Linked DNA regions of Homo sapiens: regions 1 and 3 are each linked to region 2. Evidence: fine-mapped expression QTL. A gene starts in region 2. Each other region holds a variant in brackets. All regions are shown on one strand. Distances are between the middles of the regions. Region 1 overlaps LINC01521 (long intergenic non-protein coding RNA 1521). Region 2 holds the start of LIMK2 (LIM domain kinase 2). Region 3 overlaps DEPDC5 (DEP domain containing 5, GATOR1 subcomplex subunit).

The links. PIP is the estimated chance that this variant, and not a neighbour inherited with it, causes the effect.
Region 1: its variant is the best candidate, but not a certain one, in a credible set for the expression of LIMK2 in cerebral cortex (GTEx, PIP 0.60).
Region 3: its variant is the best candidate, but not a certain one, in a credible set for the expression of LIMK2 in whole blood (TOPMed, PIP 0.50).

What each region holds. Positions count from the first base shown.
Region 1 is chr22:31,350,953-31,362,151 of GRCh38, forward strand. LINC01521 (long intergenic non-protein coding RNA 1521) reads left to right here. Exons shown (of 1, transcript NR_120386.1): 1 at 1-203. Among named protein-coding and RNA genes, the nearest start is that of LINC01521, 9.8 kb to the left of the region's middle. The variant C/G (reference allele first, on the strand shown) is at 5,123.
Region 2 is chr22:31,208,576-31,215,173 of GRCh38, forward strand. LIMK2 (LIM domain kinase 2) reads left to right here and starts at 3,723. Exons shown (of 16, transcript NM_005569.4): 1 at 3,723-3,849. The coding sequence starts at 3,834. RefSeq lists enhancers at 3,264-3,443, 4,406-5,331 and a silencer at 3,424-3,823.
Region 3 is chr22:31,768,508-31,779,706 of GRCh38, forward strand. DEPDC5 (DEP domain containing 5, GATOR1 subcomplex subunit) reads left to right here. Exons shown (of 43, transcript NM_001242896.3): 7 at 307-356; 8 at 9,592-9,661. Among named protein-coding and RNA genes, the nearest start is that of DEPDC5, 20 kb to the left of the region's middle. The variant A/G (reference allele first, on the strand shown) is at 4,387.

The sequences.
Region 1 (11,199 bases), 140 kb after region 2:
TGTGCTAAAATCCACTTCCCCTGGACCATCCCCGGAAGAGCCCAAATGCAGGTGATAGCTCCTCTCAGGATTTACATTGCATTTTTTGTTGTTACTCCCTGATTGTAAAAGTGCTATGTGCATTGTGGAAAATGTAGGAGATACACAAAAGCACAAAGAAGAAAAATTAAATAAAGATCTGTAATTTCACCACCAAGAGTCGAGCGCTGCCAACATTTCCTTCTGGTCTTTTTCTACATATGTGTATTTCTCTTTAAAAAAAAAAAAAATTATTGGCCGGGCGCAGTGGCTCATGCCTGTAATCCCAGCACTTTGGGAGGCTGAGGCGGGCAGATCACGAGGTCAGGAGATCGAGACCATCCTAACACAGTGAAACCCTGTCTCTACTAAAAAAAAAATTAGCGGGGCATGGTTGCGGGCATCTGTAGTCCCAGCTACTCAGGAGGCTGAGGCAGGAGAATGGCTTGAACCCTGGAGGCAGACATTGTAGTGACCTGAGATCATGCTACTGCACTCCAGCCTAGGCAACAAGAGCGAGACTCCATCTCAAAAACAACAACAACAACAAAAATAATAATAATGACAGGGCACAGTGGCTTATGCCTGTAATCCCAGCACTTTGGGAGGCTGAGGTGGGTGGATCCCAAGGTCAGGAGTTGGAGACCAGCCTGACCAACATGGTGAAACCCTGTCTCTACTAAATATACAAAAATTAGCCAGGCGTGGTGGCATGCACCTGTAATCCCAGCTACTCGGGAGGCTGAGGCAAGAGAATCACTTGAACCTGGGAGGTGGAGGTTGCAGTGAGAGGAGATTGTGCCACTGCACTCCAGCCTGGGCAACAGAGCGAGACACCGTCTCAAAATAATAATAATAATAACAACTTTGTTAAGCACTATCTGTGCCAGCCATAGTGCTGAGAGCACTCCTTGGTTTACCCTCTGGAATCCTCACAACAACCCTATGAGGCACTTACTCTGATGATTCCCATTTTACTGGTGTGGAAACTGAGGAATGAGCAGATAGGGAAGGGAGAGGAAGGCCCAAAGCATGCTGAATAGCAGGTACCTCTGCCTGCTCCAGGGGCTTTCAGCACAAATCCAGGCTGCCAGGCTTTATTGAGGACCTGATGGGAGGAGGAGATGGAGGGAAACACAGGAATGAGGCACCCTAGTTTCTGCCCCACTCGCCTTTAGCCTTTATCAGTCTTTCTTAGAAGGCATGTGAAGCCAACCGACTTTCTTTGCTCACTTCAATGCTGGGCTGTTCAACTTCTTAATAACAATAGCAACAAGACCATTCCTTGAACAATCATGGCACTTCAAGCATGAATGGAGTTGTTTTGGAGCCAGACAGACACAAGTTCAAGTTCAAGGTCTGCCCTTGCTGATAGTTTGGCTTTGGGTGAACAGTGCCAGAGGTTCATTTAACCCCCATAGCCTCTCTCTGAGGGTAGGATCATTGTCCCTGCCTTTTGTTTTTTCAGAGACAGGGTCTCTGTCACCCAGGTTGGCATGTACTGTCACCATCATAGCTCACTGCAGTCTGGAATGCTTTGGACTCAAGTGATCCTCCCGCCTCCACCTCCAGAATAGCTGGGACTCTGGGTTATGCCACCACGCCCAGATCATTTTTACAAATGTTTGTAGAGATGGAGTCTCACTATGTTGCCCAGGCTGGTTTCAAACTCCTGGCCTCAAGCAGTCCTCATGCCTCACCCTCCCATAGGGCTGGAATTACAGATGTGAGCCACTACACCCAGCCATTGCCCCCTGTTTATAGGTGAGCCAACTGGAAAGTTAGTTGGTTCATCCACGCCTGCCCTCGTGAAGGTTGTGCGGTCCAAACTGAGCGCAGGTCTCCCTGATTCCAACAGCCAGGTTCTTTCTCCAGCACCTTGGACCCCTTTTCTTTCTCGACAGTTGGGTTTCCTTCATGACTGGGAGGAGTGGGCAAATCTTCCACCTCACACGGAGGCCTAGCTCCTTCAGCTACACAAGGATCTTGCAGGAGGGAGAGGCTCAGCAGTTCCTGCTTCCCTGCTCCGTCCAAGTTATCTCAGCCCCTCTGTGCTGTGGTCTTCAAGGCCCGACTGGGACCCAGTAGGCCACGGTTTATCATTGGCCATGTTTCCTGCCTCTGCATCACTAGCAGAGACTTTAACACTCTTTCTTTTCATTAATCAGGCACAAAAAGGAAAAAAAAAGTCCTCATGTGTAATTGTTTGTATTTCTATACTTTAACCTGGGAGGATTTTTTTGTTTTTTTGTTTTTTTGAGATGGAATTTCGCTCTTGTTGCCCAGGCTGCAGTGCAGTGGCATGATCTCAGCTCACTGCAACCTCTGCCTCCCATGTTCAAGCAATTCTCCTACCTCAGCCTCCAGAGTAGCTGGGATTACAGGCGCCCGCCACCATGCCCGGCTAATTTTTGTATTTTTAGTAGAGATGGGGTTTCACCATTTTGGCCAGGCTGGTCTCTAACTCCTGACCTCAAGTGATCCGCCCGCCTCGGCCTCCCAAAGTGCTAGGATTACAGGCGTGAACCACCGTGCCCACCCCAGGATTTTCTTTTTTGTGCCTGATTACCTGAAGGAGAGAGAGTCAAGGTATCGCTGGTGACACGGGGGCAGGAAACATGGCCACACACATACATACACGTGAAAGGCAACTGTCTAACTGAAGAAAATCAGCTGCACATTACAGAGAAAGAGTTAATGTCCAGAAGTGCCTGAAGGTCTTCCTGGAGGTTGCCCGTGAGCCAAGATCACACCACTGCAGTCCAGCCTGGGTGACAGAGTGAGACTCAGTCTCAAAAAAAAAAAAAAAAAAAAAGTCATAGTGCTCGCATGAGTTAAGCTTTTAGGTGAGATTCCTGAGTGACATTTGATTCAACAGCAGTGTATAAAAACACTAGGTCCTTCCCATGTTGGGTTAGCTGTAATGGTGGTTAGTGAAATGTCTGACAATTTGAGAGCCAAAATGATTTTTTCATTTATTCATTCAAGAAGTATTTATGGGTGTCTTATTTGTGCCACGCACCGTGCTGGGCAATGGAGATGCTGTGGGGACAAGATATTTGGGGTCACGTCTGTAATCCCAGCACTTTGGGAGGCTGAGGCCGGCAGATCACCTGAGGTCAGGAGTTCAAGACCAGCCTGGCCAACATGGTGAAACCCCGTCTCTACTAAAATTACAAAAATTAGCCAGGTAAGGTGGTGTGTGCCTGGAATACCAGCTACTCGGGAGGCTGAGGCAGGAAAATCGCTTGAACCCAGGAGTCGGAGGTTGCAGTGAGCCAAAATCACACCATTGTACTCCAGCCTGGGTGACAACAGCGAAACTCTGTCTCAAAAAAAGAAAAAAAGAGGCCAGGCACGGGGGCTTAAGCCTGTAATCCCAGCACTTTGGGAGGCCGAAGTGGGTGGATCACCTGAGGTCAGGAGTTCAAGACCTGCCTGACCAACATGGTGAAATCCCGTTTCTACTAAAAATATAAAAAATTAACTGGGCGTGGTGGCGGGCACCTGTAGTCCTAGCTACTCGGGAGACTGAGGCAGGAGAATCACTTGAACCTGGGAGGTGGAGGTTGCAGTGAGCCAAGATCGCATCGCTGCACTCCAGGCTGGGTGACAGACTGAGACTCCATCTCAAAAAAAAAAAAAAAGAAAAGAAAAGACGTTTAATTGACTCATGGTTATGCAGGCTCTATAGAAGCATGGTGCTGGCATCTGCCCAGTTTCTGGTGAAGACTAAGGGAGCTTTCAATCATGGCAGAAGGCAAAGGGGGATCAGGCAAGTCACATGGTGAAAACAGGAGCAAGTGAGAGTAGGTGCCACACACTTTTATTTTTTAATTTTATTTTTAAAAATTTTTGTATTTTTTATATTTTGAGACAGAGTCTCGCTCTTTCACCCAGGCTGGAGTGCAGTGGCATGATCTCAGCTCCCTGCAACCTCCGCTTCCCAGGTTCAAGCAATTCTCCTGCCTCAGCCTCCTGAGTAGCTGGGACTACAGGCACATGCCACCATGTCCAGATAATTTTTTTTCTTTCTTTCTTTTTTTTTTTTTTTAGACGGAGTCTCACTCTGTTGCCCAGGCTGGAGTGCAGTAATGCTATCTCGGCTCACTTCAACCTCCACCTCCCAGGTTCAAGTGATTCTCCTGTCTTAGCCTCCCAAGTAGCTGAGATTACAGGCACCCATCACCACCCCCAGCTAATTTTTGTATTTTTAGTAGAGATGGGATTTCACTGGTTGGACAGGCTGGTCTCGAACTCCTGACCTCAGGTGATCCACCCACCTCAGCCTCTCAAAGTGCTGGGATTACAGGCGTGAGCCACTGCACCCAGCTGTTTTTATTTTTATTATTTTTTGAGACAGGGTCTTGCTGTGCCAACCAGGCTGGAGTGCAGTGGCACAATCTCAGCTCACTGCATTCTCTGCCTCTGGGGCTCAAGCGATCCTCCCACCTCAGCCTCCCGAGTAGCTGAGACTACAGGTGTGCACTACCATGCCTGGTTAATTTTCGTATTTTTGATAGAGACAGGGTTTCACCATGTTGGCCAGGCTGGTCTCCAACTCCTAAGCTCAGGTGATCTGCCCACCTCTGCCTCCCAAAGTGCTGGGATTACAGGCGTGAGCGTGAGCACAAGCCCAGCCTATTTTTATTTTTTGTTAAAGACAGGGTCTTGCTCTGTCACCCAGGCTGGAGTGTGGTGGTGCCATCACGGTTCACCGCAGCTTCTACCACCTCCTTGGCTCAAGCAATCCTCCCTCCTCAGCCTCCAGAGTGACTGGGACCACAGGTGTCAGCCACCACACCTGGCTAACTTTTATACTTTTTGTAGAGGGGTTTTACCATGTTGTCCAGGCTGGTCTCAAACTCCTAGGCTGAAGCGATCTGCCCGCCTCGGCTTCCCAAAGTGCTGGGATTACAGGCGTGTGCCACTGCGCCCGGCTAATTTGTGTATTTTTTGTAGAGACAAAGATTTCATTACGTTGCTCAGGCTGGTCTCAAACTCCTGGGCTCAAGCCATCTGCCCGCCTTGGCCTCCCAATGTGCTGGGATTACAGGCGTGAGCCACTGTGCCCAGCCTTATTTTTCTTTTTAATGTTTATTTT[C/G]TCCATCAAATATAATTTGGAAAATGAGGCAAAGCAGAGGAAACGATAATAAATTATCCATAGTGTCTCACCACTTAAATAGAAGTACTAAAATGTTGGTATATTCTTTCTTTCTTTCTTTTTCTTTCTTTCTTTCTTTCTTTCTTTCTTTTTCTTTCTTTTTTTCTTTCTTTCTTTCTTTCTTTCTCTCTTTCTTCCTTCTCCTCCTCCTCCTTCTTCTTCCTCTTCCTCTTCTTCTTTTTCCTCCTCCTCCTTTTTCTCTCTCTCTCTGTTTTTTTCTTTTCATGGAGTTTTGCTCTTGTCGCCCAGGCTGGAGTGAGTGCAACGGCGCCATCTCAGCTCACTGCAAACTCCACCTCCCAGGTCCAAGTGATTCTCCTGCCTCACCCTCCCGCCTGCCACCATGCCCAGCTAAGTTTTGTATTTTTAGTAGAGATGAGGTTTCACCATGTTGGTCAGGCTGGTCTTGAACTCCTTGACCTCAGGTGATCCACCTGCCTCAGCTTCCCAAAGTGCTGGGATTACAGGCGTGAGCCACTGTGCCTGGCCAAATGTTGGTATATTTTCATCTTGACTTTTTTTTTTCAGTTTCAATGCACTGTTGTTAAAAATACTACTAATGAATATATGCTTTTTTTTTTACATTAAGAAATGAGTGTCTCACTTTATCGCCCAGGGTAGAGTGCAGTGATGAGTTCATAACTCATTGCAACCTGAACTTGTGGGCTTGAACAATTCTCCTACCTCAGCCAAGTGAGTAGCTGGGATTACAGGCACCCACCACCACACCTGCCCTCTCCTGCTTCTTAAATGAAGCAGTATATTATGAATATGTTGCAGATTAACACTGGGACTGTAGGTAAGTGTGTTTTGGGGCCACTTTCACTTTTTATCTTAAACACTTTCATAGTGTTTTATTTTATTTTTACAACGCAAATGGTTACTTTTGTCATTTGAAAAGCAATAGAGGCGCCAGGCACGATGGCTCACACCTGTAATCCCAGCACTTCTGGAGGCCAAGGTGGGTGGACCACCTGAGGTCAGGAGCTCGAGACAAGCCTGACCAACATAGTGAAACCCTGTCTCTACTAAAAATACAAAAATCAGCCAGGCATGGTGGTACATGCCTGTAAACCCAGCTACCTGGGAGGCTGAGGCAAGAGAATCGCTTGAACCTGAGAGGCAGAGATTGCAGTGAGCCGAGATCGTGCCATTGCACTCCAGCCTGGGCAACAAGAGTGAATCTCTGTCTCAAAAACAAAAACAAAAACACTTATATAGTGTTTTATTTTTACAACGCAACTAGTTACTTTTGTCATTTGAAAAGCAATAGAGAGGCCAGGCGTGGTGGCTCACACCTATGATCCCAGCACTTTGGGAGGCTGAGGCGAGTGGATCATGAGTTCAGGAGTTCAAGACCAGCTTGACCAACATGATGAAACCCCGTCTCTACTAAAAATACAAAAATTAGCCAGGTGTGGTGACGCACACCTGTAATACCGGCTACTCAGAAGGCTGAGGAAAAGAGAATCGCTTGAATCCAGTGGCGGAGGTTGCAGTGAGCCGAGATCGCACCACTGCACTCTAGCCTGGGCAACAGAGCAAGACTCTGCCTCAAAAAAAAAAGAAAAGAAAAGCCATAGAGAACCCATAATATCATGAGTACCTTTCAAGTCATTACATAAAAATTAAAAATAAAATAAGTAAATATTAAAGAAATCTTATTTTCACGGGCTGCAAAGCTTCCCGACTGGATGATTGGTTGTATCTTGATCTTGATTCTCTAACGGTTTCTCCTGTGGAACACTTAGGTTGTGTCCTTTTTCATTTTCTTTGCTATTATAGATAGCACTGAGAAGAACGTCTTTGCACATCATACATACCAGAAGCTTTAATATGATAATCTGATTTCATATGCTGGACTAGAAATGGAGAAAGACAGCTTGTGGGGCGACGAGTGCTGCTTTTATGAGGCGTTTTCTACTGGAGGTGGGAGGTAAGTAGATTGGTGGGGGAAAGGAGCTTAAAACAACAGTATTCTGAAATTCAAAATTTAGATTTAAAATAAGAATTATGAGCCGGCCATGGCGGTTTATGCCCGTAATCCCAACACTTTGGGAGGCTGAGGGTGGGGCAGATCACTTAAGGCCAGGAGTTCGAGACCAGCCTGGCCAACATGACAAAACCCAGCCTCTACTAAAAAAAAATATATATATATATTAGCTGGGTGTGATGGTGCGTGCCTGTAGTCCCAGCTACTCGGGAGGCTGAGGCACGAGAATCGCTTGAACCCAGGAGGCAGAGGTTGCCGTGAGCTAAGATTGCGCCACTGCACTCCAGCCTGGGTGACAGACGAAGACTCTGTTTCAAATAAATAAATAAAAAGAAGAATCGGGGCCGGGCACGGTGGCTCACCCCTGTAATCCCAGCACTTTGGGAGGCCGAGGGGGGCAGATCACAAGGTCAGGAGATCGAGACCATCCTGGCTAACATGGTGAAACCCCATCTCTACTAAAAACACAAAAAATTAGCTGGGTGTGGTGGCGGGCGCCTGTAGTCCCAGCTACTTGGGAGGCTGAGACAGGAGAATGGCGTGAACCCAGGAGGCGGAGCTTGCAGGGAGCCGAGATCGTGCCATTGCACTCCAGTCTGGGCAACAGACTCCATCTCAAAAAAATAAAAATAAATAAATAAAAAGAAGAATCATAGCCGAGTGTGGTGGCTCACACCTGTAATCCCAGCATTTTGGGAGGCTAAGACAAGAGGATTGCTTGAGCCCAGGAGTTCAAGATCAGCCTGGGCAATATGGCAAGACCGTGTGGCTACAAAAAAATTTTTTTGTTAATTAGCCAGGCAAGGAGGCATGAGCTTGTGGTCCCAGCTACTCGAAAGGCTGAGCCAGGAGAATGGCTTCAGCCCAGGAGGTTGAGGCTGCAGTGTACTGTGTTTGAACCACTGCACTGCACTCCAGCCTGGGTGACAGAGTGAAAAAAAAAAAAGAATTATTAGCTAAATGAGCCTCAGGTCCATTCCAGCTCAGGAATTTGGAGTGTTTTATTGTCATCTGTCTCAGGTCCAGGCTAGAGTGAGGGGTAGGTGGAGATACAAGCAGAAGGTTGCAGTCCACAGTCCACATTCACAAAAACACTTCCAAGCCCCTTGAGATTCCCTCCTGGGTTGACTCCCCAGCTCCCTCCTGTGCAGACCTGACTTTGCAAGATTCATGTGAAGAACCTGGAGAGTCAAGGTGATAGAGTCAGCCTGCATCCTCAAGGTTTGGGGCCTCACTTGTCTCTGAAAATCAATTTCTTTTCTTTTTCTTTCTTTCTTTTTTCTTTTCTTTTCTTTCCTTTTTTTTTGAGACAGAGTTGCGCTCTGTCACCCAGGCTGGAGTGCTGTGGAGTGATCTCAGCTCACTGCAACCTCTGCCTCCCGGGTTCAAGCAATTCTTGTGCCTCAGCCTCCCAAGTTGCTGGGATTACAGGCATGCAGCACCATTCCTGGCTAAGTCTTCCATTTTTAGTAGAGACATGGTTTTGCCATGTTGTCCAGGCTGGTCTTGAACCCCTGACCTCAAGTGATCTGCACACCTCAGCCTCCCAAAGTGTGGGAAATTACAGGCATGAGCCACCGAGTCTGGCCTGAAAATCAAATTCTATCAACTGAGGTGGAGCTTGGTTCTGAACCCACTTCCAGCTTTGTAATTTGGGGCAAATTTACTTAACAGCCCAGAACCTAAGAGGTTCTTTATTTGAGGGAGGGTCTCACTCTGTCACCCAGGCTGGAGTGCAATGTCATGATTACAGCTCACTGCAGCCTCATCCTCCTTAGCTCAAGCAGTCCTCCTGCCTGAGCCTCCCAAGTAGCTGGGACCATAGGCATGTGGCTCCACACCCAGTAAAAAATTTTTTTTTTTTTTTTTTTTTTTGTAGAGATGGAGTTTCACTAAGTTGCTCAGGCTGGTTTCAAATTCCTAGGCTCAAGTGATCCTCCTGCCTAGGCTTCTCAAAATGTTAGGATTACAGGAGTCAGCCAGCCACCAAGCCTGGTGCCTAAGGGGTTCTTATAGAAATGAATGAGAATATTATTATGCACATCGTAAATGCTTAATCAGTGACAGCTATTTGTTGTTGTTTGCAATTCAGTGTTAAATGCTGTGATGAAAGAAGCACAGGAATTACAGAAGTCATATTAAATATGATAGGACCTAGCCTGGGGCATGGGGGCAGGCTTCCTACAGGATGCCACAATAAAATTCTGACTGGTGAAGAAGAAAGGCCCTGGGGTATTTCTTTTCTGACAGCTGGATCTTTCTAGGTGAGAATGTAATATATTCAATGCCAGGTGATTCCCAAACCTGTGTGTGTGTTACAATCCCTTGGGGTGAGGGTGGGGAGGAAGTGATAGGTTACAAAAGATTCTAGAGGCACCAGCCCAATCGGAAGTGCTATATGAGGTACATATTATTCTATGTGAGGCACTTCGCATAAGACGGCTCTCAACCTTCATATCAGGAACAAGGATTCCTAGTTTTCTGGTTCCTGGCATGTGCTCTAAAAGAAATGCAGGGCTGCCCAGGCGTGGTGGCTCATGCGTGTAATCCCAGCACTTTGGGACGCCGAGGAGGGTGGATCACTTGAAGCCAGGAGTTCGAGACCAGCCTGGCCAACATGGTGAAAACCCGTCTCTACTAAAAATACAAAAATTAGCCGAGCGTGGTGGCATGTGCCTATAATCCCAGCTACTTAGGAGGCTGAGGCAGGAGAATTGTTTGGATCTGGGAGGTGGAAGTTTCAGTGAGGTGAGATCGAGCCACTGTACTCCAGCCTGGGAGTAAGACTCCGTCTCAGAAAAAAAAAAAAAAAATGAAAACAAAACAAAACTGCAGGACTGGGACTTGGGACACAGCTGGAGTCTTCAGTTTTTGCTTTGTTATGCTCTTATCATTCTTACCAGCTCAAATAATTATTTATTTTTTTTAAATTATTGTGGTACATAGTAGGTATATATATTTACAGGTACATGAGATGTTTTGATACAGGCATCCAATGTGAAATAAGCACATCATGGAGAATGGGGTATTCATCCCCTCAAGCATTTATCCTTTGAGATACAAACAATCCAGTTACACTCTTTATTTTTAAAAGTACAATTAAGTTATTATTGACTATAGTCACCCTATTATGTTATCAAATAGATTTTATTCATCCTATTTTTTTGTACCCTTTAACCATTGAATTTTTTTTTTTTTTTTTTGAGACAGAGTCTTGCTCTGTTGCCCAGGCTGGAGTGCAATGGTGCAATCTCAGTTTGCTGGAGCCTCAACCTCCTGGGCTCAAGTGATTCGCATGCGTCAGCCTCCCAAGTAGCTGGGACTACAGGCATACACCACCATGCCTGGCTAATTTTTGTATTTTTAGTGGAGACGGGGTTTCGCCATGTTGGCCAGGTTGGTCTGAAACTCCTGGTCTCCAGTGATCCACTCACCTCAGCCTCCCAAAGTGCTAGGATTACAGGCATGAGCCACCATGCCTGACTATATTTTTTATTTATTTATTTATTTTGTAGAGAGAGGGTCTCACCATATTGCTCAGGTTGGTCTTGAACTCCTGGTCTCAAACAATCCTCCCGCCTCAGCCTCCCAAAATGCGATAATTACAGGCGTGAGCCACCACGCCCAGCAAAGTCTCCAGTCTTTGTGACCCTAGTTAAGTCCCCTCCTTTCTCCATGATTCAGTTTCCTCATCTGTAAAACAAGGGAATTGATCTAAATTAGGAGTCTCAAACTCAGGTGTTTCTAAGGGCCAGGGTAACTTGGTGAGATGTGTGGCACAAATGGGAACTACAGGGCTGAAGAAGGCACCACAGCAAAGGGGAAAACAGGCTGGACACAGCAGCTCAGGCCTGTAGTCCCAGCACTGTAGGAGGCCCAGGAGGGAGCCCAGGAGTTGGAGACCAGCCTGGACAACATAGAGAGCCCCTTGTCTCTACAAAAAAAGGGGGGCAGCCAGAGTCCAGCCTGTGAACCCAGAAGTATCTGATTTAGATCTCAATCAATTTAGAAAGTTCATTTTGCC
Region 2 (6,598 bases):
ACTTTGGGAGGGTGAGGCGGGCGGATTGCCAGAGCTCAGGAGTTTGAGACCAACCTGGGCAACATAGTGAAACCCCGTCTCTACTAAAATACAAAAAATTAGCCAGGCGTAGCGGTAGGCGCCTGTAGTCTCAGCAACTCGGGAGACTGAGGCAGGAGAATCGCTTGAACCCGGGAGGCAGAGGTTGCAGTGAGCCGAGATCGCACCAGTGCACTCCAGTCGGGGCGACAGAGCAAGACTCCATCTCAAAAAAAAAAAAAAAGCAAAATACCTTTAAAAAATTTCTTAAAATCATCATATCCAATCACATTGTTCAGATTTCCCTAGTTGTCTCATAACTTGTGTAGTTTCAATTGAGATCCAAATCAGTTTCATACATTGCTATTATTTGTCTCTGAATTTTTTTTTTTTTTTTTTTTGAGACAGAGTTTCACTTGCCGCCCAGACTGGAGTGCAGTGATGCGATCCCAGCTCACTACAGCCCCCGTCTCCCGGGTTCAAGTGATTCTCATGCCTCAGCCTCCTTGGTAGCTGGGACTACAGGCGCCCGCCATCATGCCTGGCTAATTTTTTGTTTTTTTGTGTGTGTGTTTGTGTGACAGAGTCTCGCTCTGTTGCCCAGGCTGAAGTGCAGTGGCGGGATCTCGGCTAACTGCAAGCTCCACCTCCTGGGTTCACACAATTCTCCTGCCTCAGCCTCCCAAGTAGCTGAGACTACAGGTGCCCGCCACCACGCCCGGCTAATTTTTTTTGTATTTTTAGTACAGACGGGGTTTCACCATGTCAGCCAGGATGGTCTCAAGCTCCTGACCTCATGATCCACCCGCCTCAGCCTCCCAAAGTGCTAGGATTACAGGGGTGAGCCACCTTGCCTGGCCTGTCTATGAAATTTTTTCTACTCTGCAGTTTATCTGTTAAAGAAACTAGGTTATTTGTCCTGTTGCATTTCCCACAGCATCATTTTTGCTATTTGCATCATGGAAATGTTATTAAGCTCCTCTTCTCCATGTATTTCCTGTAAGTTGGTTGTTAGATCTAGAAGCTTGACCAGATTCAAGCTTATTATTTTTGTTTTGTAAGACTACGTCATAGGTGATAGTATATACTTGGTGCGTCTTACCTGGAGGCACTTAATGTCTGGTAGTCCTACTTTGTGATGTTACAGATGCCACTATATCATTTAGAGTTGAGAAACAAGACTGCACTCTGGGCAGAGTGGGGCACAAAATTACAGAGAACCTGGAGAGCTGGTTGTTGTAGGAATGGCAGGTGGCGCAAGGCAGGATGTGCTCAGGAAAAAGCAGAGTCCTGGAGTGAAGGGAATAGGGAGACAAGTCCGCAGGGTGAGATGTAGTCAGCTCATGAGGACTGGTTTGGCTTTTATTTTGTAGGCAGTGGGGTGCTGTTGAAGGGTTTTGAACAGAGAGATGACAGGTCCAGAAACATACTTTTGGAAGATTAACACAGTCAGTTTTGGGTAGGATGATTCAGGGAGGGCAGAGACTGGCTCAGTTTGAAGCAAGTGGAAGTGACACTGGGCAAGTCTGGTTGGGTACCAGTGGACCAGTACCTTCAAGAGGGCAGAACCTTGAGTTGTTTTTCAAGGTCCAGGTTTCAGGATCCTAGGCTCAGAGAGTTGACTGTGAGGCGGCTGGCAGGATCTGGCCCTAGGGACTGACCAAGCTATGGCCAGTGAAACAAACTGTGGACAGGTAACCTGGGTGCTATTGAAACTCAGTTGGTCTACTCCCTGCCCAGGCTTTCTCTACCCTCCAGAAGTCCCCCTTGAGTTCACAAGTGATTTCTGGAATGTTCTTTGGGTCCATATTAAAAATATATCTCTTGGCTATAGCATTTCTATAGAAAGCTATTCCCTTCCATTACATTTTCAACTTGTGTTTCTCAGAGTCGCCTGAACTTCCCTGGGAGGAACTTGGGGGACTTGGCTATTCCCCAGCTCCCTGCTGGTGAAGACCATGAGGCTGGAGGTAGGAGGAAGTGGAATGTGAGAGAGAATGAGGAGGGAGAAGAGATAGACCTGGGTGCCTTGGTGTGGAACGGAGGGAGAGGGAAGACACCCAGGAGGTTTTGGTTCCCAGGATGCCAGTGCTTTGTTGCCTGGGAAAATACAGTGTTACATCTTTCTGTAGGAAGGATGGGGAAAGTCCCTGTCCCCTGTTTGCTAGCCATGAGGCAGCTTGTCAGGAGAGTCTCTGGATTCCTGTCACTTTAATTCAATACACAATCTTGTGTTTACTATAATGATTTCCTCAGAAACTACAAAACTGAGTACTGAAAAGAGTTCCCAGGAATTAACGGAAATGGGACAGAGCCCTCCTCCCCAGCACTTTGTGCACACTCAGGACATCGTGAGCCACCTGCCACACCCAGAAGAGAAAAATCTGACCGGCATCCGGTTTGAATTAGAGCAGGAAGGAAGAGAATTGTGCTCGCCTTTGTCTTTGCCTTTGCCTTTGCTTACCCAACTGCTGGGACCAGAGGCAGCTGGGTTGAACTTTGTCTTTGGTCAGGGGTGGGGGTGGAGGGGACAGAATCCATTTCCCTGGGCTCCATCCTCTTTCTGGTCATTTGGACATGTTTCCTGTGATCTAAATCTGATGTAAGGAAATGACAATTGTGAAAGACCCAGCGTGAGAGAATCTGATGGGAGGGTGGGTCATCAGGGACCAGCTGGCCTGGCTGATGATGTATTAATATCTTAATCACACAGAGGACCCCAATCTCCTTCCAAACCTAATGAGCGGAAGTGGTTCTCAAAGCTACTCAGCCAGCTAGCAGCTGCCATAACCCAGTCAGCTGTCCTAACTCTTAGTCCTGTAATCCCTCCTCCTCATAGAAGATTGTAAACTGGCAGCCCACAGGGCAAATCTAGTGGCCAGGTGTGTTTCATTTGGTCTACATGGCATTTTAAGAACTTTTTGATGCTATCAACATTTTTTAAAAGTGGCAAATTTCACCTAAATATCTGGATTTTTGGCATGTTTTGAAAGGTTGGAAGACCTGGGAATGGTAGGCCCATGTTCCTGCAGGGGAGTGCTCGTCTTCCAATGCGGCGCACAAGCTCCAGCGTCCTGCGCTAAACCTAATTGGCCTGGCTGAGGATCTGCTCCTGGAATGCTGGTTGGTCGCCTCCAACTGTCTTTGACTTAGAGATTATTTACTGTCAGCTTACTCATAGTGGCGCAGAGAAGTGGTTTCTCTGAGCTAGAAGCTTCTAAGAAAAGTCCATCCTCAAAGCTGTTTGTGGGATAGACCTGGCTCCTCCATTGTAATATTCCTGATTCCAAACACTACTGGAAAGAGCTCTGAACTGGCAGTTAGCAGGCCTGGGCTCCCATCCCGGCTCTCCTCCTAATGAGCGAAGCCATTTCAATGTAGTCGAACTTAGCCTCTGATCCTTAACTTTCCCTATCTGTAAATGAGGGCGACTAGATGGGTGCGGACTGTCATCCGTGTTGAGACTTCCGGCCCCCGCAGAATCAACCTTACCGGCGGGAGCACCTCGAGGGGACGCCGCTCGCACTAGGGGGCGCCAGGGCCGCTGCAGAGCCCGAGCCAGAGCCAGGGGGCGGGGCCGCGTCTCGGGAGCGAGGCCTGAGAGCGGCGGGGCGGGGCGTCGGCGGGCAGTCCCCTGTGCCAGGTGTGGTTTGGTCCTCCCAGGGCGCCGTAGGCGGTGCATCCCGTTCGCGCCTGGGGCTGTGGTCTTCCCGCGCCTGAGGCGGCGGCGGCAGGAGCTGAGGGGAGTTGTAGGGAACTGAGGGGAGCTGCTGTGTCCCCCGCCTCCTCCTCCCCATTTCCGCGCTCCCGGGACCATGTCCGCGCTGGCGGGTAAGGAAGGGCTGCTCCGCCCTGTCCCGCTGTTATCTCCGAAGTCCGGTTCCATGGCGCCTGAGGGAAACCGGCTGTCTCTCGGGGGTTTCGGGCTGGTTGGGTCCTCGTGGGTCCGAGCTCCTCAGAAAAGCTGGGAGGCGGGGTGGGCACAGCGCTCCCCAGGCATTTGGAGGGTGGGACTCCGGGAATGGGGAGGCAGGGCATCCTGGAGACAGAGGGCTCCGAGGGGCAGGCGGGTTGGGAGGCTTCCCGCGAGTTGAGGTCCCGGGGAGGAAGAGATTCTGGGTCTGCCAGGAATCCAGCTTTTTGGAGGGACCTGGCGGCCGCAGACCCCCAAATTAACCCTTTTTAAGGAAGTTGAAAAGCATGGGGTTCTCTTATAGTGGAAGCTCTGTGGAATTTGAGGAGTACAGGATCCTCTAGGGTTCAGGACAATTAGGAGAGTTACCCCGGGTTCTGGGTTTTCTGAGGGAAATGGAGGATGTGACTTCCCTGCCAAGACCCAAGGCTTCTCGCGGGCATCTTGGTGTCTGGGAGTCCCCCGGGGCTGGGAGCTCTTTGCAGAAAATAAGGGAGTATGGAGCCCCTTGAGGTTTAGGACAGGACTAAGGGTAAGGAGAGATCGGACCATTCTTTTTGGGGCCCAAAGATCTCTGCTACAGGTGGCGAAAGTAGGCCACCTGGGGTTCTGAGTCCTCCTGTGGAAGCTCCCTTGGCCTCTCTAGACTAAAGACTAGAGGGATTCGGCCAAACACCTCCTGGAAGGAAGAGTTGTCTAAGGGTGAAGGGTAGCTTCAGAGTTGGGTTAGTTGCACCTGCAGTCACCTCCCCGCCACCTCACACACCACCCTGCAGCTTCCTGCCTTCCCCATCTTTTCCCCCAGCAGTAGGAACCTTCTGTCTCCTATGTTTCCCAGCCACCTGTGTGGGTGGCCCACCTCTGGGTCCACCAGGGTCAGCGTCCAGAAGCTTTGGAGAGGCGGCAAGAGGGTATTGAGGTGGAGGGGGGCTGGCTATCTGCCCCCTGCTTCCTGGCTTTCCGTCTGTGGACAGTCACTTCCTTCATCTTGAATGCAAGGACTGGGCTACCAGTGGGTCACTTCCTCAGCAAGGGAGCATGGGATTTTCTCTTCACTGGTGATAACAGACTTCTGGAGAGAGCTAGGGGTGGAAATGCCTAAAACAAATTTTTTTAGGCTGGGCGTGGTGGCTCATGCCTGTAATCCCAGCACTTTGGGAGGGCAGGGCAGGAGGATCGCTTGAGTCCAGGAGTTTGAGACCAGCTTGGGCAATATAGCGAGACTTCATCTCTTAAAAACAAAACCTTGTCTCTTAAAAAAGATTTTTTTTAAGCTTACAGAGTCCTTCAACTCGAATGATTTCCAGTAACTTTTTTTTTTTTTTCTTAGATGGAGTCTTGCTCTGTCGCCCAGGCTGGGGTGCAGTGGCACAATCTTGGCTCATTGCAACCTCTGCCTCCCGGGTTCAAGCGATTCTCCTACCTCAGCCTCCCGAGTAGCTGGGACAACAGGGGCCCGCCACCACGCCCGGCTAATTTTTTTGGTATATTTAGTAGAGATGGGGTTTCACCATATTGGCCAGGCTGGTCTTGAACTCCTGACCTTGTGATCCGCCCGCTTCGGCCTCCCAAAGTGCTGGGATTACAGGCGTGAGCCACCGCACCCGGCCGATTTCCAGTAACTTTTTCTAACAGCTGTGTAATATAGGTTGCCTGTCTTGAACCCTGTTTCTTAGAAAATTGTGAAAGGTTTCACAGTACAATAGTCTAGAGGCATAAAGCCTCTAGATGCATTAGTTTATGCATTCTTTCTTTCATTCAAAGAATATTTGTTGGATTCTTCTGTGTCATATACTTAGCCAAATGCTGAGTACAGTGGTGACATAGTTCTTGGCTTTGTGGTGCTTAATAATCCTAGAGATGGACAATAAATAATTGTAACAATTGCAATAAATGCTATAATAGTTAAGGTAAACAATTGAGATAAGTGCTGTAAGAGTGCACCAGGGGTGAGGGTTTTCTCTACTTTTTTTTCTGTTTTGGTAGAGACAGGGTCTCACTATGTTGCCCACGGTGGTTTCAAGCCATCCTCCTGTCTCAACCTCCCAAAGTGCTGGGATTACAGGCATGAACCACCATGCCCATCCTCTACTTTTTTTTTTTTTGAAGGGAATACTTTTCTTAAAAATGCAAGTTTATGCTGACCCCTGGAGATAAGTAAAAGTTAGCCTGGCAAAAAAAGCTCACAGAGCATTCCAGGCAGAGGAAACAGCATAAAAAGGCCCTAGGGTAGGAAGGCATGTAGTGCCTTTGAGCCTTGGAGCTGGGAGGTCAATATGGTTTTTTGATTTTTTTGTAGGGGGTGGGGAGGAAGAGTCTTGCTCTGTTGCCCATGCTGGAGTACAGTGGCGCGATCCAGACTCACTGTACCCTCCACCTCCCAGGTTCAAGTGAATCTTCTGCCTCAGCTTCCTGAGTAGCTGGGACTACAGGCAAGTGCTACCACGCCCAGCTAATTTTTTGTATTTTTATTAGAGACGGGGTCTTACCATGTTGCCCAGGCTGGTCTCAAACTCCTGAGCTCAGGCAGTCCACCCGCCTTGGACTCCCAAAATGCTAGGATTATAGGCGTGAGCCACCATGCCCAGCCAAGTATGGCTTTTTTATAGATGAGGAGACAGGCCCAGAAATGACAAGGTTCCATAGCTAAATGAGCAGTGGTGGTCA
Region 3 (11,199 bases), 560 kb after region 2:
ATGTAAACATATGTGAAGATGAGGATATTTGTAAAGCTGGTCATTTATCATCCACCTGGTCTTTGCTATTATCTATACTTGCCAAACTCTTTAAGCACCTACTGTCATACCTACCCTAACAGGTTTTCCTGTGGGTAAATCTATTACTCACAAGCTAGTTCAACTTTGGGTTGGTAGAAGAGATTAGAAAGCTAGGAGTTCTTGTTTGTGATTTTTCATGGCCTTAATATGTTAATCAATCTCTCTCTCTTTCTCACCCTCTCTCCCTCCCTCCCTCTCTCTACCCCTCTCTCCCCCTCCTCTTAGGTCAGCACATGTGCCTATATCACCCAGAAGGTGGAGTTTGCTGGCATCAGGTAGATATTACATCACTCTTGCCTTATCTGTGCAGTAACTGGGCTACATAAAGCAGTGGAGGCGTATGGATGTCCATATAATAAAATGTGTAAAAGTATAAAATGTTAGATTGTTGGCTGGCCACAGTGGCTCACGCCTGTAATCCTAGCACTTTGGGAGGCCAAGGTGGGCGGATCACGAGGTCAGGAGATCAGGACCATACTGGCTAACACGGTGAAACCCCGTCTCTACTAAAAATACAAAAAATTAGCTGGGCGTGGTGGCGGGCGCCTGTAGTCGCAGCTACTTGGGAGACTGAGGCAGGAGAATGGCGTGAACCCGGGAGGCGGAGCTTGCAGTGAGCCGAGATCACGCCACTGCCCTCCAGCCTGGACGACAGAGCAAAACTCCGTCTCAAAAAAAAAAAAAAAAAAGTTAGATTGTTGTAGCTCAAACAAACCACAAAATGCACTATAGTAGTTTGAGGCTTATTAATGGAAAAAGTTGATGAAGCCCCCTGGCATTCTGTAAAAAAGGAAGTAGAAAAAAAAAAGGAGATAGAGACTCGTAATTTTACAACTGGAAAAACCCTAGATGCACGTATTGAATCATACTTTCTCATTTTACAAATTAGGAAACAGGTTTAGAAACATAAAATGACTGGCACATTGGCTCCTGATTTGTTACCTTTTTAACTATATTGCTGTACTCTTGATTTATTAAAACTATTTCTATATTTTAGTTTGTGAAGAAAAAAGAGACTTTGTGAAATCCCCTTTAAATTCAAAAAGTGGCTGGGTGTGGTGGCTCACACTTGTAATCCCAACACTTTGGGATGCTGAGGTGGGTAGATTGTTGCTTGAGCCCAGGAGTTGAAGACCAGCCTGGGCAACATAGTGAGACCCCATTTCTACAAAAAAATACAAAAATTAGCTGGGTGTGGTGACACACGCCTGTAGTCCAGCTACCCGGGAGGCTGAGAGGTGGGAGGATCGCTTGAGCCTGGGAGGTAGAGGCTGCAGTGAGCTGGGATCACACCACTACACTCCAGCCTGGATGACAGAGCAAGACCCTGCCTCAAAAAAAAAATTCAGAAAGTATTTCAGGTGCGGTGGCTCACACCTGTAATCTCAGCACTTTGAGAGGCCAAGGTGGGCTGAGTGTGCTTGAGCCCCAGGAGTTCAAGACCAGCTTGGGCCACGTGACAAATAGTCTCTAAAAAAAAGAGAAAAAAAAAAAAAACAGCCAGGCATGGTGGTGTGCGACTGTAGTCCCAGCTACTCAGGAGGCTGAGGTGGGAGGATCGCCTGAGCCCTGGGAGGTTGGGGCTGCAGTGAGACATTATCATGCCACTGCACTGCAGCCTGGGTGACAGAGTGAGACTGTCTCAAAAAAAAAAAAAGTACAACATGCACATAATTAAGCATTCAAATAATTCAGAAAGGTATCTCATGAAATATACATTCCTCTCCCCAGAAACAACTTGTTTCTTTCCTGAAATTTACTGTGTACACACAATCATATTTATGTCTTGTTTTTTTGTTTTTTTTTTTCTGAGACAGAGTCTTGCTCTGTCACCCAGGCTGGAGTGCAGTGGTGGGACCTTGGCTGACTGCAGCCTCTACCTCCTGATTTCAAGCAATTATCCTGCCTCAGCCTCGTGAGTTGCTGGAATTACAGTTACCCACCACCACACGTAGCTAATTTTTTTTTTTTTTTTTTGTATTTTTAGTAGAGACGGAGTTTCACCATGTTGGTCAGGCTGGTCTCGAACTCCTGACCTCGTGATCTGCCCACCTTCGACTCCCAAAGTGCTGGGATTACAGGTGTGAGCTACCTCACCCGGCATATTTGTCTTGTTAACTGACTTGTGGTGATCCTAAGCTTGTTCAGTGGGGTCACAGGGTGCAGTGTAGTCCCTCGTTATAAAGATCCCCATCTACTTTTCTTTTTTTTTTTTTTTTTTGAGACAAAGTCTCACTCTGTCGCCCAGGCTGGAGTGCAGTGGTGTGATCTTGTCTCACTGCAACCTCTGCCTCCCAGGTTCAAGCAATTATTCTGCCTGGGCCTCCTGAACTACAGGCACGTGCCACCATGCCCGGCTAATTTTTGTATTTTCAGTGGAGATGGGGTTTCACCATGTTGGCCAGGCTGGTCTCAAACTCCTGATCTCAGGTGATCCCGCCTCCTCAGCCTCCCAAAGCACTGGGATTATAGGCGTTGAGCCACCGCACGCGGCCCCCATCAACTTTTCACCTAATGGTTTCATCCATTGAGGATTGTTGTAAGATGGTGATTTTCTTTCCTTTTTTTGGTGATTTTTTAATTAAGTCATCCCTTCTACATTTATTAGCCAGAATCCTTCTGTAAATAATTTTTCATCATCAACTAGGTCTATTTGACCAGAATGAAATACTGATCCTAAAAAGAAAGAAAGGATAGAGGCTTCATTTTTTCTCCCAAAAAGGGTATTTTGAAACTTGTTGTGGGGAGCCAGGTAAAATGGCTATGGCGTGAGGATCACTTGAGGCCAGGAGTTCAAACCAGCCTGGACAACATAGTAAGACCTCATCTCTACAGAAATAGTAATTTTTAAAAAATTGCTGGTTGGCTCACACCTGTAATCCCAGCACTTTGGGAGACTGAGGCAGGCAGATCACGAGATCAGGAGATCGAGACCATCCTGGGTAACATGGTGAAACCCCATCTCTACTAAAAATACAAAAATCAGCTGGGTGTGGTGGCCTGTGCCTGTAGTCCCAGCTACTCGGGAGGCTGAGGCAGGAGAATCGCTTGAACCAGGGAGTCAGAGGTTGCAGTGAGCCGAGATCACACCACTGCACTCTAGCCTGGTGACAGAGCAAGACTCCGTCACACACACACACACACACACACACACACACACACACACACACACACACACACACACACACACACAGTTAGGACTAGGTGCAGTGGCTCATGCCTCTAATCCCAGCACTTTGGAAGGCTGAGGTGGGTAGTTTGCTTGAGCCTGGGAGTTCAAGACCAACCTGGCAATATGCTGAAACCCCATCCCTACAAAAAAATACAAAAATTAGCTGGTCATGGTGGCGCTTGTAGTCCCAGTTACTTGGGAGGCTGAGGTGGAAGGATCACCTAAATCCAGGGAGGTTCAAGGCTGTAGTGAGCCTTGATCATTCTGCTGCCTTCTAGCCTGGGTGACAGAGTCAGACTCTGGCTAAAATAACAATAAAAAAAAGAACGGGGGTTGGTGTCAGGGCTCCTCTAGTTTGAGGTACTTGGGAAACAGGTTGGAGGAGCACTGAAGCACAGGTCGATGCTGCAGTGAGCTATTATTGCATTATTGTACTCCAGCCTGGGCAACAGAGTGAGATCCCATCTTTGAAAACAAACAAAAATTTGTTAGCGGGTCAGTGTTCTTTAAAACATCCAAGCAACTAAAGCACAACCCAAGAAGTGACTAAATCTCAAGCAGCACAAAAAATGTAACCAAGGTTTATGCCTCCAGTATCAGCAGATCTCTACTGGATGGGTATCCAGGGTCAGGAAGCCTGGATCTGTATCTGCAGAGCCAGTGTTTAGCCATCACTGTGATTAGTGGTTCGAGTGATGTTGGGTAACTTCGGTAAACCCTTAGTCTTCACATCTGCAAAATGGAGTAGTTGGTTTAGAATATTCTTCTGTCAAGGACCAGTTAATAAATATTTTAGACTTTGTGAGTAGCAATAGATCTCAGGTCTATTGCATATTCTGTGTGTTTCGACCATTTAAAAATGTAACAGCCATTCTTAGCTATGGGCCATATGAAAACAGGAGATAGGCGAGAATTGGCTTGAAGGCTGTATGTAGTTTGCCAGCCTCGGTTTGGAAACCTATTCAGATCTCTCTCATTTTTTTTTCTATTGCTTCCTCTTTTATTTTTAAATTATATATATATTATATATATTATTTCTGAGACAGAGTCTTTCTCTGTTGCCTAGGCTGGAGTGTAGTAGCATGATATCTCCCCACTGCAACCTCTGCCTCCTGGTTTCAAGTGATTCTCCT[A/G]CCTCAGCCTCCTGAATAGCTGGGACTACAGGAATGCACCACTATGCCCAGCTAATTTTTGTTTTTTTAGTAGACACGGGGTCTTGCCATGTTGGCCAGGCTGGTGTCGAACTCCTGGCCTCAAGTGATCTGCACACGTTGGCCTCCAAAAGTGATGAGATTACAGATGTAAGTCACCACGCCTGGCTGATCTCTTTCTTTTTTAAGTTCTTTGTTTCTCTATGTAAATACCCTCATACACACAGTTCTAGATGGAGAAAAGAAAACCCTGACAGATTGTCACTTTTTAACTTTATTTTTATATATTTATTTCTGAGATGGGCTTCCTCTATCGCCCAGGCTGGAATGCAGTTGTGCCATCATGCCTCACTACAGCCTCAACCTCCTAGGCCCAAGCAATACTCCCACCTCAGCCTCCTGAGTAGCTAGGACTACAAGTGCGTGCCAGCATGCCTGGCTCTTTTTTTGTTTTTGTTTTTGTTTCATTATGGTAGAGACAGGGTCTCACTATGTTCCTCAGGCTGGTTTCCAACTCCTGGGCTCAAACGATCCTCTTGGCTCAGCCCCCTAGAGTGCTGGGATTACAGGTATGAGCCACCGCAGCTGGCCTCTTTTAGACTTTTAAAGATCTGTCCTGATATTTTGCTCAGGCTTGGTTAAATGTAAACTACAGTCTTCTATCTTTTCTCCAGAAGACTTACAGTATTTCTACACTGGATCAAAGGTTACTTTCTTTTGCTGACTTCGTGAATGCCTGAGAAAAAAGATGCTGTGGGCCTCCTGTGAGAAAAATAAAGTATAGTCATTTGTATAGTTAAAGTCATTACAAATGGTCAAATAATTTCCCTGCAATTTAACTTTCAATCTGGTAATAGTTACATAGTTAAGAACACATGAGCCGGGTGTGGTGGCTCACGCCTATAATCCCAGCACTTTGGGAGGCCAAGGTGGGTGGATTACCTGAGGTCAGGGGTTCATGACCAGCCTGGCGAACATGGTGAAACCCTGTCTCTACTAAAAATACAAAATTAGCTGAGCATGATGGCAGGCTCCTGTAATCCCAGCTACTCGGGAGGCTGAGGCAGGAGAATTGCTTGAACCTGGGAGGCAGAGGTTGTGGTGAGCCGAGATCGTGCCATTGCACTCCACCCTGGGCAACAAGAACGAAACCCTGTCTCAAAAAAACAAAACAAAACAACAACAACAACAAAAAATATATATATAGTAGCAAAATCTTGTCTCCTGTTGACTAACATTTTGCTTTTAAAAAATAATGACCTTAAACCCTAGCCTGTTGGATCACATTGTAACTTTTTTTTTTTTTTTTGAGACGAGTCTCACTCTGTCACCTAGGCTGCAGTGCAGTGGCGTGATCTTGGCTCTGCAACCTCTGCCTCCCAGGCTCAAGCAATTCTCCTGCCTCAGCCTCTCAAGTAGCTGGGATCACAGGCACCCGCCACCATGCCTGGCTAATTTTGTGTTTTTAGTAGAGATGGGGTTTCACCATGTTTTTCAGGCTGGTCTTGAACTCCCGACCTCAGGTAATCTGCCTGCCTCGGCCTCCCAAAGTGATGGGATTACAGGCGTGAGCCACCACCTCCAGCCACACCAAGCTTGTTTTAGAGGTCCTGTGAATGTGGGGTTCTGACGATTATAAGCAGAGCTGGCTGGGTGCGGTGGCTCATGCCTGTAATCCCAGCACTTTGAGAGGCTTAAGTGGGCAGATTGCTTGAGTCTGGGAGTTCAAGACCAGCCTAGACAACATGGTGAAACCCCGTCTTTACTGAAAATACAAAAAAATTAGCTGGGTGTGGCTGCTTGTGCCTGTAGTTTCACCTACTTGGGAGTCTGAGGTGGGAGAATCGCTCAAGCCCAAGAATTTGAGGCCACCCTGGGCAACATAGCAAGATAGTAGATACGGGGTTTTACCACGTTGGCCAGGATGGTCTCGATCTCTTGACCTCGTGATCCACCCACCTCGGCCTCCCAAGGTGCTAGGATTACAGGCATGAGCCACCGTGCCTGACCTCCTTATTACAATATTAAAGAAATACAAGTCTCTTCTGAGGTCAGGCTTGTGACACTTGTTCATTCACAGACGTAACTGGGCAAAGGAGTATGAAAAAGCATCCCACTTGGTATAAGCCATGGGCCTGGTCCAGCCTTCTTCATTTTGGCATGGGGTAGACCCAGAGGGATTGATTGATTGTCCAGCATTTCCTAGGTAGCCTGAACTATGACTCATGGTACACAGCATTTTCCTGGCTTTTATCTGATTTTGTCTTCCTTCCTTTTTTTTTTTTGAGACAGAGTTTTACTCTTGTTGCCCAGGCTGGAGTGCAATGGTGCGATCTGAGCTCATTGCAACCTCTGCCTCCCAGGTTCAAGCAATTCTCCTGCCTCAGCCTCCCGAGTAGCTGGGATTACAGGCACCTGCCACCACGCCTGGCTAATTTTTGTGTTTTTAGTAAAGACAGGGTTTCACCATGTTGGCCAGGCTGGTGTCAAACTCCTGACTTCATGATCCACCCACCTCGGCCTCCCAAAGTGTTGGGATTACAGATGTGAGCCACTGCACCTGGCCTTTGTCTTCCTTTTTTATGAGGACTGATTGCTTAGGTGAGGCAGGTTGGGAGAAAGAGTGAAATTGGTAGAAGATAAGGGCTTGAGGTGGTTGGTTGAGGGATGATTGATTACACGGTGCTCAGCTAATAGCTACCACTTTCTCTCCAGGATAGCATTTTGTGTTAATACCTGCTGTAGTTCTAGTTCTTGCTAGTAAACTAATTGAGCACGCCCTATCCTCACACTGTCCTGAACAGTTTCCCCACATTATCTGGTTTAATTTGAAAACAGCTCTGTAGAAGGCTGGGCACAGTGGCTCACACCTGTAAACCCAGCAGTTTGGGAGGCCAAGGCGGGCGGATCACAAGGTCAGGAGTTCGAGACCAGCCTGGCCAACATGGTGAAACCTCATCTCTACTAAAAATATAAAAAATTAGCTGGGCATGGTGGCACGTGCCTGTAATCCCAGCTACTCGGGAGGCTGAGGCAGGAGAATCGCTTGAACCAGGGAGTCAGAGGTTGCAGTGAGCTGAGATCGCACCACTGCACTCCAGACTGGGCGACAGAGCGAGACTACATCTCAAAAAAAAAAAAAAAAAAAAGTGAAAGCAGCTCTGTAAGGCGTAGGCTTCATTGTCTCTTTTGTTTTGTTTGTTTTTTTGTTTTGTTTTTTGCAATAGTCTCACTCTGTTGCCCAGACTGGAGTGCAGTGGTGCGATCACAGCTCACTACAGCCTTGACCTGTGAGGCCCAAGCGATCCTCCTACCTCAGCCTCCTAGGTAGCTGGGACTACAGCATGTGCCACCATACCTGCCTAATTTTTTGTATTTTTTATAGCGACAGGGTCTCACTATGCTACCTAGGCTGGTCTCAAGCTCCTGGGCTCAAGCAATCTGCCAACCTTGGCCTTCCAAAGTGTTGTGATTATAGGTGTGAGTCACCGTGCCCGGCCCATTGTCTCATTTTTAAAGATAATGCCACTGAACCTCATGAATTTACTATGGCCATTCACGTAGTAAGTGTCACTCAGCTGGGATTCTTGCCTAGACCAGTTTCTCTTCAGGCCAGTCAAGTCTGAAAGCCATGCTTTACTTTTTCTACTGTACTATTCACTTTTTTTTTTTTTTTTTTTTTGAGGCTGAGTTGTGCTCTTGTTGCCCAGGCTGGAGTGCAATAACACGATCTTGGCTTACTGCAATCTCTGCCTCCGGGGTTCAAGTGATTCTGCCTCAGCTTCCTGAGAAGCTGAGATTATAGGTACCCACCACCATGCCCATTTAATTTTTTGTATTTTTAGTAGAGAGGGGGTTTCACCATATTGGCCAGGCTGGTCTTGAACTCCTGACCTCAGGTGATCCACCTGCCTTGGCCTCCCAAAGTGCTGGGATTACAGGCATGAGCCACTGCACCCATTCTCGTACTATCTACTTCTTGCCCTCAAAAATGCATGGAGGAAAAAACATCATTCCCAAAAATGTAATACCAAGTTGCTATTAGTTAATTATTATTATTTTTTTTTTTGAGACAGAGTCTCGCTCTGTTGCCCAGGCTGGAGTGCAGTGGTGCGATCTCGGCTCACTGAAACCTCCGCCTCCTGGGTTCAAACGGTTCTCCTGCCTAAGCCTCCCTAAGTAGCTGGGTCTATAGGTGCCACCATGCCCAGCTAATTTTTGTATTTTTAGTAGGGATGGGGTTTCGCTGTGTTGGCCAGGGTGGTCTCGAACTCCTGACCTCAGGTGATTCACCCGCCTCAGCCTCTCAACGTGTTGGGATTATAGGCATGAACCACTGCACCTGGCCCTAAGTTTTTTTTTTTTTTTTGAGACAGTCTCGCTCTGTCGCCCAGGCTGGAGTGCAGTGGCACGATCTCAGCTCACTGCAACTTCCACCTCCTGGGTTCAAGTGATTCTCCTGCCTCAGCGTCCTGAGTAGCTGAGATTACAGGCGCATGCCACCACGCCCAGCTAATTTTTTTTTTTTTTAGTAGAGACATCATTTCACCATGTTGGTCAGGCTGATCTCGAACTCCTGACCTCGTGATCTGCCCTCCGTGGCCTCCCAAAGTGCTGGGATTACAGGCGTGAGCCACCATGCCTGGCCAAGAAGCCCTTCTTTAGACCTATATGTGGACTCCCAGATTAAGAGCCCCTGTTCATATTCAGTATAGTATGAGAGTTCTTTATATTGGATAATCTGTTCACGGAGTTCTCTGGAAATCTGTAACCAGTTAGGTCATTTGAGTATAAGTAGCAGAGCCACCTGAAGTTGCCCCTATTTCTTTTTGGTTTGTTTTATTTTTATTTTTTGAGACGGAATCTCACTCTGTTGCCTAGGATGGAGTGCAGTGGCATGATGTTGGCTCACTACAACCTCTGCCTCGTGACTTCAAGCAGTTCTCCTGCCTTAGCCTCCTGAGTAGCTGGGACTACAGGCATGTGTCACCATGCCCGGCTAAATTTTGGATTTTTAGTATAGATGGGGTTTCACCATGTTGTCCAGGCTGGTCTCGAAGTCCTGACCTCAGGTAATTCGCCCGCCTTGGCTTCCCAAAGTGCTGGGATTACAGGCGTGAGCTATTGCACCAGGCATGTATTGGTTTCATGTAAGACTTGTAATAACTTGTGTGTGTATTCTTTCAGAGCACAGGCTGGTGAACTGTGGGTTAAGAATGAGAAGGTCATGTGTGGCTACATCAGTGAAGATACCAGGGTAAGATTTATAAAATGCTTTTTTGGTTTTATCTCTCCATACTATTATGGCTAAGTCCTAAAATCAAAAATAAAACAAGGGCGGGGCAGGACACCAAGGTGGGCAGATTGCTTTATCCCAGGAGTTCAAGACAAGCCTGGGCAACATGGAGAGACCCACCTGTACAAAAATTAGCCAGGCATGGTGATGGGTACCTCTGGTCCCAGCTATTCAGGAAGCTGAGGTGGAAGAATTACCGGGATCCTAGGAGTTCGAAGCTGCAGTGGGTCATGATTGCATCACTGCACTCCAGCCTGGGCAACAGAGCAAGACCCCATCTCAAAAACAAACAAAAAACACAAACAAACAAAAATCTGCTAAGCTCTTGACAGCTACTCTTTGCCCACATGTAATATCAAGTTCTCCTGAAACTGTTTTACAGTTGGATTTCTCCAGTTTGGAGTTGATCTTCATTTTCTTCTGAAGGGGTCTGTTTAATGTCAAACAGAGAGCTAGAGTATCTGGCCTGCATTATGCCATGCCCACTCATACATAGCAAAAGTTAAGCCCCATGGAAGATCATGTCATAAACATGAAGAGAGACCTTTGCCAATGAACGTTACCCATGCTGGTAAAACTGTATGTCTACCTTTTCTCGTTCCCATCTCCATGCCTTCTCTGAGAGCAGTGGTTTTCAACCAGGGGTGATTTTGCTCCCTTCAGGGGTCTTTTGACAATGTCTAAAGACATATTTGGTTGTCACAACTGAGGGGTTGTGCCATTGGCATCTAGTGAGAATCCTGCTAAACATGCTACACGTCCAGAGCAGGCCTCCAGAGCAAAGAGTTATCTGGCCCAAAATGTTAATATGTTGTGGGGGTTGTCTTGTGCATTGTGGGATGGTTAGCAGCATCCCTGGCCTCTACTCACTAGATGCCAGTATCACCTACCACCCTTCACCCTACAAATCTACAAGTTATGACAGCCAGAAATTTCTCCAGACATGCCAAATGTCCTCTGAAAGGTAAAATCACCCTTGGTTGAGACCCAGTGTATCCTTAGAGGGAACCACTCCATGAACTTCATTTTTGTAATTTCCTATTGTTTACATTGGATGTATTTACATTGTTTGTAAATACATGTATGTTTGTGCGTGTGTGTATACACATGACCCAATTAATTGCCAGAGTGCTCACCATAATCGTGCCTTTGCTTTCCTGCAAAGGTGTCTGAAAAGTGAGACTTAGCTAGTTTATAAATGCTGGGGTGAAGAGTATTCCAGGCAAAGGAAACAATTTTCAGAAGTCAGTGTGGTGGAAGTATTGCAGACAGGTAGGGAGAATGATGTTGGTGAGGAGATAGGCAGGTTCCAGCCAGTTCATGCAGGGCCTTCAAGGTGGTTAGAACCAGTTTAGAGTGTTTCTAAGGAGAATTAGAATCCATTGATGGGTTTTAAGTGGGAGAGTGATACTTGAATTATGCTTTTAAGAGATCACTACTCATTCAGTTGTGTTTTGTTGAATAAAACCCTCCAAATCACCGGCTCTAATGGCCAAAGG